Linked DNA regions of Homo sapiens. The protein of the gene in region 1 interacts with the protein of each later gene in a pairwise test. Each region holds a gene or a part of one and is shown in the gene's direction. Other genes may lie near its edges.

Evidence for each region. The genes of interacting proteins can lie anywhere in the genome.
Region 2: the proteins of PLA2G4A (region 1) and XAGE1B interact in a two-hybrid assay, tested with the Homo sapiens proteins (one study listed by BioGRID).

The regions. Positions count from the first base shown.
Region 1 is NC_000001.11:186,943,871-186,950,960, forward strand, and holds part of PLA2G4A (cytosolic phospholipase A2), read left to right. Parts: intron 1-2,766; coding exon 2,767-2,904; intron 2,905-2,998; coding exon 2,999-3,091; intron 3,092-6,786; coding exon 6,787-6,858; intron 6,859-7,090. UniProt on the Homo sapiens protein: Has primarily calcium-dependent phospholipase and lysophospholipase activities, with a major role in membrane lipid remodeling and biosynthesis of lipid mediators of the inflammatory response.
Region 2 is NC_000023.11:52,514,064-52,521,510, reverse strand, and holds the start of XAGE1B (X antigen family member 1), read left to right. Parts: upstream 1-4,447; 5' UTR 4,448-4,531; exon of another isoform or gene 4,532-4,660; coding exon of another isoform or gene 4,661-4,851; intron 4,852-5,937; coding exon of another isoform or gene 5,938-5,983; coding exon 5,984-6,079; coding exon of another isoform or gene 6,080-6,095; intron 6,096-6,606; coding exon 6,607-6,733; intron 6,734-7,447.

The DNA.
Region 1 (7,090 bases):
TAATGCTTTTGTGCAGGGCAATAAAATTATTTATGTAGTGTTTTTGAAAAAGTCACTTTGGTGACCAATAAAAACAGAATGGAAAGGAATGAAACTGGAAGCAGAGATATCACTGTGCTTTTGTGATAAGGCCCTGGAACTAGGGACATACTGATAAGAAAAGAATAGATGGATATGAGAGGCCTAAAGGTTATCGGTGTGATGCAATGATGGATTTGATAGAGTGATAGCATGGTTTACTGAAATAGGTAAGCTGGCCCGGGAAGAAGGGTGATGAGTTCTTATCTAGGTAAGTATAGTGGGAGGAGATGACAGAATATCTGAGTGTAAGGGCCCCAAAGGAAGTTGAAAGTACATGGAAGCGCAGGAGAGAGGTTGGAGTCAAAAGGTAGAGTCACCAGCAGGAGAGAATTAGTTGAAAACTAACACCGTGAGTTCTTCAGTGAGGGGTGCAGAGCTCATTTTAGCTTTTGAGAATGCCTAAGTTACTATGTGCCCAGGCCATGGCGCTAATCAAGAAGAGATCGCTAGAAAAGCAGGAACCAGGAAGTTGTTATGCCTCAGTTCCCATGATAGGGTTGTGAAATTGAGAGATAGGAAATTACTTGTATGAATACAGGAATTTTCCTAACAGCCTCTGATTCATTGCTAGTTATGTCTCACAAATTCCACGTAAATCGTTGTAAATCACACCACTTTCTGATGAAGAATATATGTACCATTTGGCTTTGACATATAATGAATTACAATGTTATCAAAATTGTGATTTCATCACTTCCTTCATGAAAGGAAGGTGTTGTGACCTACCATTGAACAAACAATAAATATAGATCCACAATTCCTTTTCCAAACCTTTGGTGACATGTGTTTTAGAATTCAAAATGTTTGGATTTTGGAGATATAAAGATACTCATATTGTGTATTACCTAATACCCCATTGGGTTCTTATAATCAGTGATATTTCTCCAATAGGATATATAAATATCCACATTGAGTGGGATAAATGAATTATAAGAGCCCCCACTAACATTCAAGCCTGATTTCTCACTAAATGAATTCAGATTAGATTTTACAAACAAATGAGTAACAAAGAAGCTTATGAATTTTTGAATTGTTTGGATTTTGTATTGTTGGATAAGATATTACAGACATATTATAATTTCAGAAAGAGAAAAGCTAGAAAAAAAAATGAAGTGGGTTAGAGAATTATGAGTTGGGCAGGGGTGGATGATGTTGGGATTTTAAAATGGACCATCAGCAAAGACCCTAAAATAAAGATTAAGTAGGAGCAAGCATTATAACTGCAGAAGGGAATAGCAAGTGTAAGGTGCTGAAGTGGGAATGAACTTGACTTCTTTGAGGAACAGCAAGAAGATCTGTGCCGTGTGGCTGAAGTGAAGTGGGATACGCAAGACAAAATGTGATAGAACATTGTTAGGAGGGATGTGGTCACATCACACAGGGAGTGGGATCTAGGCCAGGACGGAAACTTGTCGGCCCTGTTTTTATTTTCAGTGTAATGGGAAGCTTTCAGATGACACTGGTGTGCTGTGATTTATATTTTTAAAGATTTATTCTGGCTATGGGATATCAAAAAGATAATAAGTGAACAGAGTAGAAGCATTTTAGGAGGTTATTGTGGAGGTCCAGGAGAGAGAATACAGCAATTTGTATCAGTACGATCACAGTGGACAAATGGATAAGTGACCAGGTTCTAAACATACCTCGTGATAGAGCCTACAGCACTTGATTTTTCCTGTGTAAGCTATAAGGGAAAAGAGAACCATCAAGGGTAATCCTGAAGTGAGTAGTGGCATGAATAATATAGTACCATTTACCAACAAGAAGAAGAATGAAGGAGTTGCAAATGTAGAAAATGGGAATCAGAAACCAGGAGTTCTTGCTGAAGACATCAAGATGCAGATGATAATTAGACATAGTCGTAGCCATGGGAATACATGAAACATAAAGTGGCTACTATTTATTGAGCAATTAAAATGTGCTATGTCCTCTTCTAAGCTCCTTACATTTCTTAACTCAGTGGATCTTCAAAACAATCCTACACACTATCTACTTGTGATATGTGATTTTATTCACATTTTATAGATTAGGGACCTAAGACAGAGAGAATAATACCCAAGTCAGTAAGCACAGCTCATAAGCAGCAAAATAGGATTTGATCCCAGACAGTCCAGCTCCAGAGCCCCCGCGCTTAGACAGTATACATCTCTGGCACTATTACCATGTTTTTCTAAGGCATTCAACCTAAAAACTTTGTATTGCAATCTTGTGGAGTTAGAATAGACAGTTAGTGAGCAAAATTGAAGTGAAGGTGAAGAAAAGATAAATGTTAGAAAACATTTTATTTCATTTTAATAAACTGTTTGAATTGCTTAGAAGAGTTTAATTTATTCTGTATGCTCCATGAAATTTATATCTAGTTAGCAGTTTTCAGTTTCCTGTTCTGTAGAATGAAAACTGGCTTCAAAAAGACATCTGAGTTTTTAAATAGAAAAGTGCATCTAATTTCTGCAAATTAGAAGGGATCTTTTTGTATCGTCTTGTCTTATTCACCTCTAAGCGTTTTTCCCCCAACTTCTACACAATGTCATATACATAATGGGCATTTGGCTAATGTTTTCATTTTGATATTTTAAATACATGAATGAGAATAAGCATAACATTATTAAAGTGATCATTAATTGTGCACACCATGCCATAGCATTTTCCTATTAATGGATTGCCTTGTTTTTAAAATACTTTCAGATTGGGTTGAATTTAGTCCATACGAAATTGGCATGGCTAAATATGGTACTTTTATGGCTCCCGACTTATTTGGAAGCAAATTTTTTATGGGAACAGTCGTTAAGAAGTATGAAGAAAACCCCTTGCATTTCTTAATGGGTAAGTGATCAAAATAAAAATATATCATTGACTTGCTTGACTATTTTGAAACCTGGGATATTTTAAGTTATTTTCTGTTTCTGTTTTATTTTAGGTGTCTGGGGCAGTGCCTTTTCCATATTGTTCAACAGAGTTTTGGGCGTTTCTGGTTCACAAAGCAGAGGCTCCACAATGGAGGAAGAATTAGGTATCCTAAAGATATGCTTACATTGATACAAATCTTGCTACATTGATAAAGTTTATTGACATATATAGAGAGAATATTAAATCTTTGTAAATATTTCAACTATTCTAAATTTATTAATAATTTGGTTGAATCAATCTAAATATTTCCTAAAAATAATATGTTACTTCTTAAGTATTATTTTGACACTGAGGTTATAAAACTCATAAAAATCATTGATTTCTAAGAGTAATTTTTAATAGAACACATCTCTATTCCTTTTTCGCATTATACTGCTAAACATACTATTTGTATTAGAAAGTCCTCTTTTTATCAAATAAGAATAGCTTTTTAAAGATTAGATTCACCAACAGCTAAATACAATGTAACACTGAAGCTTATGCTTGTCAGTTTATTTAACCCTTAAATATTAACTCACCAGAATTCTGTTAGCATCTTATATTAATCTATACCCAAAAGAAGGAAAAAAATCAAATCACCTCTAGTACACTTAAACTAATGATTTTCATTAAATCTAACCTATTGGCCTATAATAAATTACGAATATTTACAAAACCTGAGAAAGTAGACAATCTCAACTGGGGACCAGTGGTTTTCATTCATTATAGGAATACCATAGAAACATGTTTTCTTAAATTAATAAATTTGACTTAAAGCAAACAAAAAATTTATATTCAGTTTCTTCCAAAAGCCTTGCCACCTGTATTTTAATCAACATTAATTTTTGGGTTGACTGTTTTGACTGATAGCATAAAGAAATGGTGGCATGCTAAATCTGAATTTGGAGCCATAACAGCAGGGACCTGGGAGAAGTGCCTGATGGACTATCAACACAACTACCTACTATCTCTTCTCTATCTGGGAAGTAGCAAAGATCTATCTGAGAACAAAGAAGTCGACAGAATAACATTGATGACTTTTTAAATAATTAATTTATTTGAAGAATGCTTGCATACAAAAAGCTTCCTGCAGGAATTTTAAACAAGCTGTCCTTGGTTATCCCAGGCAATGTCAGTTGATTTAATTAAGTTTACATGCAAAAGAGAATACAATTGTAACATTAATTGGAACATTAAGTTGGCTTATAAGCAGTATTTCCACTGCTCCTACAATTGATTTTAGTTATTTGATAATTTATTTAATATTTGTATTTAGTGTGGTAAACTCCTGTAGTTCATAATATTTTCAAGAGTGTCATTTGTATTTTTGTTAGTTCTTAATGAATAATGGAAAAGTTATCTTATAATTTCATTGGAGCCAAAGATTTTAAAATAAAAATAAAAACAAACACACAAATAAGGCACCTTGTGTTTGTTTATTTTCTGTCCTCTGATCATCACCCAGTTAATGAGCAAACAAGGTAGGTGGCACCCATGAGCCTGCTGTGACATTTACCACGGGGCACATTCTCCTAAGAGTAACTGCAAGGCAATGTGTATAATGATAAAATGATCTTACTTGATTTCTTTTAATGAACATTATATCCCAGATGAATGTCCTGTTCCCAACTCTTTGTGGAAATAACAAACCCTTTCTCTAAGTTATGTGAAGATTTTAGAAAAAAAAAAAAAAGAAGAAGAAAGAGAAGATCACATATTGAGGCTTGCTTCCTGTGCCCCTCTGTTGAATAATCCAGATAACCCAGGGTTTGCTGTTTTTTCTTCTTAAGGCAGGAAGAGAATAGGACTGAAATAACAGATCTGAATGTGGGTGAGACAGTGGCTAAAAGCCAAGGAAAAGGAGGAGGTTTATACTAGGTAGTTTTGAGAAGGTTCTTTGTTGAGAAGTTTCTTTAGAGGCCGGCAGTCTGGCAGCTTATTGACTCGGACTGTGTGTCAGACTGAGGGGGAATATCGTGTATGTGTGATCCGCCAGTCAGCAGGAAGCATGTTACCTCAGATTAAGTAAGGATTTCCAGAAATGAAACCAGAGAGGTGACCAAGAGGACTCTGAGGACTCCTGGTGACTACTCTATCCTTTGGCTGACTGAAGTCTATCTCCTAAAGGAGTGTTCAGAGATGATTTTTACTTTTTTGTTTTCTTCCTTCTGAAGAAAGACTTTAAGGTAAATTGGGCTACAATCAGGTAACTCTGAATGAAACTACTTACTCTCTAAGGAGTTTTGAATGAATGTGAAAAATTTACACTTTTGAGAGATGGAGTTGTACATTATACTAGGATGGAAAATATGTAAATTCAGAATAGTTAGCTATTCATATCGTGAATTCTTCCTTACAAATAAGACAGTATTTTGGTGAACTATTTTCTTAAACTATCATATGTGACAGAAAGAAAGAAAGGAAAGAAAGAAAGAAGAAAGAAAGAAGAAAAAGAAGGAAAAAGAAAGAAAGAGAAAGAAGGAAGGAAGGAAGGAAAGAAGAAAGAAAGAGAAAGAAAGAAAGAGAAAGAAAGAAAAGAAAGAAAGAAAGAAAAAAGAAAAAGAAAGAAGAAAGAAAGAAAGGCAATAGAAAGAAAGAAAATACTTAAGGAAGGAAAAGAAAATAAATGTAGGACTAGAAACACACCTAATGTATATGGCACCTGGGATAGATCATTTCTTAACATCTCCCACACCTCTGTGTAACAAAATTACTATTGATGATAGCCATGAAATGAAACTAATAATATTAGCTTGTGAACATTTAATCAAATTTTTTATGTATAATCATGCCAGTAAAAACTTAAAAAATAAATGTCAATCCATTGCCTTAAGCATTTATTAACCCTTCCATTACTAACTCTTGCTCATTCACGCACATTTTACTTGAAAAAAGACAACTAGTCTGGGCACTGTGGCTCACACCAGTAATCCCAGTTCTTTGGGAGGCCAAGGAAGGATGATCACTTGAGTCCAGGAGTTTGAGACCAGCCTAGGCAATAGAGTGAGACTTCATTTCTACCAAAAAAAAAAAAAAAAAATTAAAAAAATTAGCCAAGCATGATGGTCCATGCCTATAATCCCAGCTACTCAGGAGGCTAAGGTGGAACGGTTGCTTGAGCCCAGAGGCAGAGGTTGAAATGAGCAGAGATCATGCCACTGCAGGCCAGCCTGGGTAACCATTTAAAAAACATAAAGAAGAAAGATAACTAGTTATTATGCTAGAATTTACTGCTGTCTTTGTTTTAAGGATTTCTGGTTGTTATTTTAGTTTTTATAACTGCTCTCTTAATATGTTCTGCAGGAAGCACAAATTCTTGACACCAAAAGGTGAATTTCAACTGACAATTTTCAATATTATTGAAAGTCAAAAGATAATTTATGTTAGTATCTTTCATTCATTTTAAGAAAACTGTTTGGTAGCTCACCTGTAGATTTTGGTTTTATCCTTTATCTTCATAAACACCACTTAAAAATATCTAATAAAGAAAAAGGCATATTTTTTGGTATAACAAGGAGCTTCCTATAATCAAGTTGTTATTTTTGTCAGAATTATGATAAACATAAAATTATCCTCTTTAAGTCATGAATTAATAAATATAAACTAATTTTTCATGTCCCAGGAAATTTTGTTTCCAGTGAGAAATCTGAGAACATGATTAAATCTAATAAATCTAGAATTATTAAATGGATTTAAATTTATACTAGTAGAGCTAGTAGATCTCACTCTGTGGTTTTGCTCAGATTACTTTTTTATATTAAAATTAATTGTTAATTTTGACACCTGAAATGCTTCAATTTTTTTGTTTTCTTTTCACAGAAAATATTACCACAAAGCATATTGTGAGTAATGATAGCTCGGACAGTGATGATGAATCACACGAACCCAAAGGTGAGTGAGCCGGAAACTTTTCTGGCCCAGATCCATGAGGAAAGGATATGAACACTCTGTCTGATTTTCTCACTCAAGATGCTGATGGTAATCTTCACTTCAGACACGGAAGTGATAAAATTGTAGCTTTCTGTTGAGAGAGAGGATTGCATGTTGCATGTCTAATAAAATAGGCAGCACATATAAATCCCTAATTTATTTTGTTTTAATACCTCAAAAATACTATAAGTTG
Region 2 (7,447 bases), on another chromosome or scaffold:
GTGGTGTTTCTGTCTTCTGAATCAATGCACCTCTCTATGATTATTATGTAATGTCCCACTTTGTCCCTTGTAGTAATCTCCACTATAAAGTGTGCTTTGTGAGATACTAATTTCACACTTTGAGTTTATGTGATTCATATTTGCAGGAAATATCTTTTTCCATCTTTTACTTGTATCTTATTTATTTGTAGAGTGGGGCTCTTTTTTTCAAGATACAGATTACTGATAAATATACTGTGAAAATCAAGATCCTCTTGCAACTGTGCAACAACAATAAAAGTACCGAAAAATTAGATGCAGAAGTTAATATACAACTAAAATGTTACGCAGAAATCCACAGAATAATCTGCTCGGCTCTTCAAAAGAACCTCAATCAAACTCTTTGACAGCCTTCATAGAAAGATATCTTCACATTAAAGTGGTATATTTATATGAAAAATATAATTTTATCCCCCTATTTTCTACAGTAGGGTTTTGGGTAAAATTTCATTTCACGAAGGTGTTCTTTTGCTAAAAATCCTTTGAGAAACAACTATATAAAATGATCTCTCAGAGCTCTCTTAGCTTTGAAATGTGGAGATTCAAATATCCCTCTGTAGATTGAGGAGGAGATGTAAAAAAAAAAAACAAAACAAAACAAAAAAAAAAACAAAAAAAACCACGGGGGAGGAAATGTTGGTCTCCTGCACTTTTCTTTTCTTTTTCTTCCTAGACTAACCAGTTTGTGTTGGTCCTCCGCTGAGCTGTTAATCCAGGGAAGAGTTGCCCTTCTGAAGAATATGTGGATTTAATGGAGACCAAGGCAGGTTTGAATCGCTCAGAAACAACAGCCAGAATAACTTTTGAAGGGCTGTAAATGAAGATGATTCAAATCCTCTGATTTATGTTACTTTTCACTCAAGTTTCTAAAAGTGCCTTCCCATCAAGAGCTGTTTGGCTAGGGACAGAAACGTTTGTTCAGCCCTATTTTTCTCTTCCTTCCTTCCTTCCTTCCTTCCTTCCTGCCTCCCTTCCTGCCTCCCTCCCTCCCTCCTTTACTTCTTTCCACCCTCCCTCCCTCGCTCCATTTGTCCTTATTTTCTCCCTTCCTCCCTGGCTCCCTTCATGCCTCACTCCCTTCCTTCTTTCCTACCTTTTATAAAAAGAAGTGAACTGATATTTGTAAAGTAGAAAGATCAGAAGAGTTCACAATTATTTTCGAGTTTTCTTTTAACTTTTATTTTGGGTTCAGGGTGCATGTGCAGGTTTGTAATATAGGTAAACTCATGTCATGGGGTTTGTTGTACAGATTATTTCATCACCCAGGTAGTAAGGCCAGTGCCCATTAGTTATTTTGTTGATCCTCTCCCTCCTCCCAGCCTCTACCCTCTGATAAGCCCCAGCGTGTTGGCCCTCTCTGGGTGTCCATGTGTTCTCAGCAATTAGCTCCCATTTATAAGTGACTTCATGTGGTATTGGGTTTTCTGCTCCTGCATTAGTTTGCTAAGGATAATGGCCTCCAGCTCCATCCGTGTTCCTGGAAAGGACATGATCTCACTGTTTTTTATGGCTGCATAGTACTCCATGGTGTATATGTACCACATTTTAAAAAGTGCAGTCTGTTATTGATGGGCATTTAGGTTGATCCCATGTCTTTGCTATTGTGAGTAGTGCTACAATGATCATACATGTGCATGCGTCTTTATAATAGAAAGGTTTATGTACCTTTGGGTATAGTCCCAGCAATGGGATTGCAGGGCCAAATGGTATTTCTGTTCTTAAGTCCGTGAGGAATTGCCACACTCCTTTCCACAATGGTTGAACTAATTTATACTCCAACCAACAGGGTATAAGCGTTGCCTTTTCTGCACAAACTCACCAGCGTCTGTTATTTTTGTTCTTGCTTTTTATCCAGCCTTATAGACTCTGACTCTGTTTTTTGAGACAGGATGTCTTTCTGTCTGTGAACGTGAATTCCGCTGGTGTCTGAGACTTGCCAGGATTCCAGCTCTCTCAAATGCCTGTGTTCGAACTTTATGAATTTGCTACATTTTCACTGGTTTTCTTCTTACCCCCTGTTATGGCTGTCACTTCTTCCACACATGCTCTGCCACAGGTGATGCAGTTTGTTTGTCTCATCCCTCCTCAGAGGGACTAAGTCACCATTTTGGATCAGTTCCCATGGCTGCCTTGTTACCTCAGGTCTCTCATGATCTAAAAACAAAGCAAAACAAAAGATAACGTTATAGATTATTAGGCTGTTTTTCATTTTCAAGGCTAAAGTGACTTTCTCTTGAGGCTTTCTAAATCTTACCTGGTGGTAGAACTCTCCTTTGTTAATCTTTTGACTACTGGTACAAAAATACAGCATTCAAATATGTGAAGTAAAAGATAATCCAGGGGCTAGCTGACTATGGCTTGAGATCTAAATACAGCCCATGGCTTGTTTTGCATAGCCATTGAGATAAGGATTTTTTTCCATTTAAAAGTATTATTGCTAAAAAACACAACACTACGCCACAGAAACTACATGACCCACAAAGACTGAAATAATTACGATCAGATCTGTTAAAGCAAAATTTGGTGATGCCGTATTAATCAAATACCTGTTATTCTGCTTTGCATTATTGCATACATCTTTTCATCCATTAATTAATTTATTTACACACGGATTGAAAATATGGATGTTACTCTATCCCCTCAAGAAAGCGTCCAGCTTTATGATACCATGATTTCAGTCTGGGAAACTTGTCCCAGGGATCAGGTCAATACACAAACATACATTTGAGGTAGGAGACTGGCAGGACTTGTTTTCTGGTCATAACTGAGCCTAGAGCCTACAGTCAGAATCTATGGCTATTTCTGAAACATATACTGTCTGAATGACCTACAGGTATATTCAGGGAAATCAGTTACCAGTCCAGAGATTTAAATGTGAAGTAACACAACCTAAAAAGAAAAGAGTAAACAGGTGTGAATGTATTTATTCTACAGAAGAATTTATTCAATTACGTTTATTGGAAGCATGGCAGAAAACCCAGAACCAGAGAACAAAGTGATTAATAAAAGCATTTATAAAACTGGCCAAGGTGGGAGGATCACTTGAGCCCAGGAAATTGAGACCAGCATGGGCAACACAGTGAGACCACTATCTAAAAAATAAATAAATAATAAATAAACCAATTACCCAGGTGTGGTGTCTGCACCTGTAGTAGCAGGGACTGGGGAGGCTACATCGGGAGGATTGTTTGAGCCCAGGAGATGGAGGCTTCAGTGAGGTATGGTCATGCCACTGCCCTCCAGCCTGAGCAACAGAGTGACACTCTGTCTGGAAAAAAAAATAAATAAAAACGGCTTTATAAATAAAGATATGAAAATAATTTATTTCTTCCACAAAAGGTCTTCCTGAGACACATCCTCCAGTAAGGGACTGTCTGTTCCCAACGTTTCTGAATGCATGAGATTGGACAAAGAGAGACGAAAGCTCTCAAGTCCCTTTTTCTACTACAAACGCCATGGGGATGCGGGTCTGGGAACAGCGGAAAACCCTACCCTGCCCTGAAAAGTCCCTGGCTCAATGTGCATGTCCCTTTCTATGAAAGTTCCTTGCTGCCTATGCGCCTTGCTCTCTAACTTCTGTCCCTCCACAACTGTGAAAGGAGACGTCGTGACTTCCTTCTTTCGTGCTGACTATGACTTAGCCAGTAGGTCTGCAGATCAGTCCTCCCAGAAAGTGAAGTGTGAGTGAGTGTGAGGGGGAGCGTGGGGGGCTTCCTGTGGGTTGTGCCACTTGGTCCATGGCCTCTGAGGTCGTCATCTTTCTACTAAAACTCAGCGATACTGCCATGGCCTTGCTGTTGTGGGGTCCCGGGCATGGGACGAAGGAGGGCCATAGCGGGGAGGAGGGTCAGGTGAGCATGGAGTGAGTTTTTTTTTTTTTTTCACGGAGTCTTGCTCTGTCACCAGGCTGGAGTGCAGTGGCGCAATCTCGGCTCACTGTAACCTCCGCCTCCCGGGTTCAAGTGATTCTCCTGCCTCAGCCTCCCGAGTAGCTGGGAGTACAGGCGCGCACAACCACACCCAGCTAATTTTTGTATTTTTCAGTAGAGACGGGTTTTAACCATGTTGGCGAGGATGGTCTCGATCTCTTGGCCACATGATCCACCCGCCTCCGCCCCCCAAAGTGCTGGGATTACAGGCGTGAGCCACCGCGCCCGGTCATGGAGTGAGTTTTGAAGGCTGACTTTATTTGAGGTATTTGAGTCCTGGTGGGGGGGAACCCACACACAGAGAGGAGGGATTCCAAAGTCGTTAATGGGGACCTGGGAAGGAGCATAGGACAGGGCAAGGCGGGATAAGGAGGGGCACCACAGCCCTTAAGGCACGAGGGAACCTCACTGCGCATGCTCCTTTGGTGCCCACCTCAGTGCGCATGTTCACTGGGCGTCTTCCCATCGGCCCCTTCGCCAGTGTGGGGAACGCGGCGGAGCTGTGAGCCGGCGACTCGGGTCCCTGAGGTCTGGATTCTTTCTCCGCTACTGAGACACGGCGGGTAGGTCCACAGGCAGATCCAACTGGGAGTTGAAGTGTGAGTGAGAGTGAAGAGGAACCAGCAGGCTTCCGGAGGGTTGTGTGGTCAGTGACTCAGAGTGAGAAGGCCCTCGAAGTCGTCGTCCCTCTCATGCGGTGCCACGCCCATGGACCTTCTTGTCTCGTCACGGCCATAACTAGGGAGGAAGGAGGGCCGAGGAGTGGAGGGGCTCAGGCGAAGCTGGGGTGCTGTTGGGGGTATCCGAGTCCCAGAAGCACCTGGAACCCCGACAGAAGATTCTGGACTCCCCAGACGGGACCAGGAGAGGGACGGCATGAGCGGTATGGAAGGGTCCTGGAGACGGGGCATGCTGCGGGCTAGTGACCGCAGCCCCGAGGTCTGTAGAGTGCCTGGCATAGGGGTCCTGTGAGGAGTGCCCACTGCTGTGTAGCAAATTCTCAACTCCACTGTGGAGATTCCAATGGGCGGGGCCCTGAGTTCCTAAAAATGTGACTTTGGGGTGGGGGGGAAGTGGGCCTAGCAAATCATTATGTGACAAAATTGGTGGTCACTGCAGTTTCAGTTCTGTAGCTGTAATTTCCTACTTGTCTCCCTGATGGAGTGTCCAGTTGTGAAACCAACCTCATGGGAAATGCCCTGTGTTTTTTGCCAGGAGCCTTAAGACATCGCTCAGCTAGCTAGACCTACTTAAGTGGCTTTGCAAGCATTCGATTCAAAAGGTGCATACACTTATACTTGCCCGGGGACTTTCAGAGTATTTCTAAATTAAAAAAAAAAAAAATGTCCAAGTTAACATTTGACCATGAAAGCGGTCAAATCTAGTTGTCCTGTCAAGTGCATTTTCCCAATCGCAGTATTCTGCTTGCAGAGTGAAGTATGTGTTGATGAGGACGATCAACATATAGGCCTATGCCAAGAAGTTCACAACCTCCTGAGCTCATTGTGCCTCTGCTTGTGAATGTCTTAACATTCGATGTTTTCTCTTAGCAGAAAGTTATTTTTCTGATAGTGTTGATGGACTAGTATGGATACACTGATAATGGTCTCCCATGCTGATAAAAAATGATCATGGCATCCCATGAAGGAAAGATTAGTCCAGAGGGTTATATTTGGGTTTTGTGTGGGTGGATGATCGTGTGTGCCCAGATTTTGTCCATAACTTCCTCCTCATGCTTATTCAGAACAGATTACACACATTCATCCCAACATTGATTAAAACGGCTTCCAAAGTCCCTGAGGATATCTGTCTTTGAGTAACCTCTCTGAGGGAAGAATAGTGTTATGAAGATTAGGTATACGGGGTAGTGTTGGAGAAATGTCTCTAGACATACTTATAATAAGACATACCTGTGTATTCTGTATATTTATATTATTGACATGTATTAATAACAAAACTTTTTATCTAGACACACACAAACACAGAACCACACAGCCAGTCCCAGGAGCCCAGTAATGGAGAGCCCCAAAAAGAAGAACCAGCAGCTGAAAGTCGGGATCCTACACCTGGGCAGCAGACAGAAGAAGATCAGGATACAGCTGAGATCCCAGGTGCTGGGAAGGGAAAGTATGTCTATGGGGCGGGAGAAGGTCTATGTGTGCATTGTGGCCTATGCCATGAGCAGTAACAGGAGCAAAGAGAACATTAGGAAAAGATACCAAACATTTGCTCAAAGTTGGCTGGAAAAGGGAGAGTATAGTTTGCAGCTTCATGCTGTCCCTGGATATAATGAATCTTCTCTTGTTCTTCGAGATGGATTTTGTATGCTTGAAAATACAGTCCTTACTAAATCACTTGAAACCATTTAATTTGGTGTATAGAAATGTACATTTTTTTATTATGTGGCAGAGGCTCATCTGTCACGCAGTGTGGATTGTTGTGGCATGATCTTGGCTCACTGCCACCTCCAGCTCTTGGGTTCAAGCGACCTCGGCCTCCCAAAGTGCTGAGATTACAGGCATGAACCACTACGCCTGGCTCAGGCTTTATTTCGTAACGCGAAGGAAGAGAATATTATCATTTCCTTATTTATATTTCATGTTGGAATGCTTAAATCGATAACCTTTGTATTTTGAAGTGCGCGACATGGAAGGTGATCTGCAAGAGCTGCATCAGTCAAACACCGGGGATAAATCTGGATTTGGGTTCCGGCGTCAAGGTGAAGATAATACCTAAAGAGGAACACTGTAAAATGCCAGAAGCAGGTATGTTATCCAGCAAGATGCAAAGTTATGTGCTTTCTCATTTACACAGTATTATACTTTTGATAATAGAGGGATAACATTAGTGCTACTTTAAAAACACAGTGCAAATGCAAATGTTCTTTGAAACGTCGTTCAGACCCAAATGCCAGATTGCAAGACTTAAACACTATCAGATACAGAAACAAATTGGGTCAAAGCCATATTGAATCATCAAACGTGACAGCATTTTCTTAGTTTGGTGTATAACCAACAGCTAACAATTTTCAGATTCTTTTCTAATTTCTGCTTTTAACAAACACATAATGCATTTGTAATACCAGTTTGTGTGAAGTATGCTGAGCCCTGAAGCAGATTCTAGTACCAGCTCTACCATAATTTGTGAGAGTCTGGATGAATCGTATAAATTCCACAGGCATCCTTGCTCTTAGTGAAAAGAGTGGATGCACATCAGATAGATTAAAATCCATTTCGTTGCTAATTTCCACATGCTCTGGTTCTGTTGGATAGAAGACCAAGATATTCTGATCTTCATGATTTGTTTATCATAACAATCAGCTTCAGTCCAATTATAGTGTCTGAGTTGAGATTTCATGGTTCCTAGGAAAATGAGCGGGCACTCTGCTTGGTGTTTGTTTTCCTGTGTGGAGCCCTGTATGAGTGTTCTTGTATTTTGCCAAATTCTGAGTTCTCTGTCTCTTAAAGAATAATTGCATT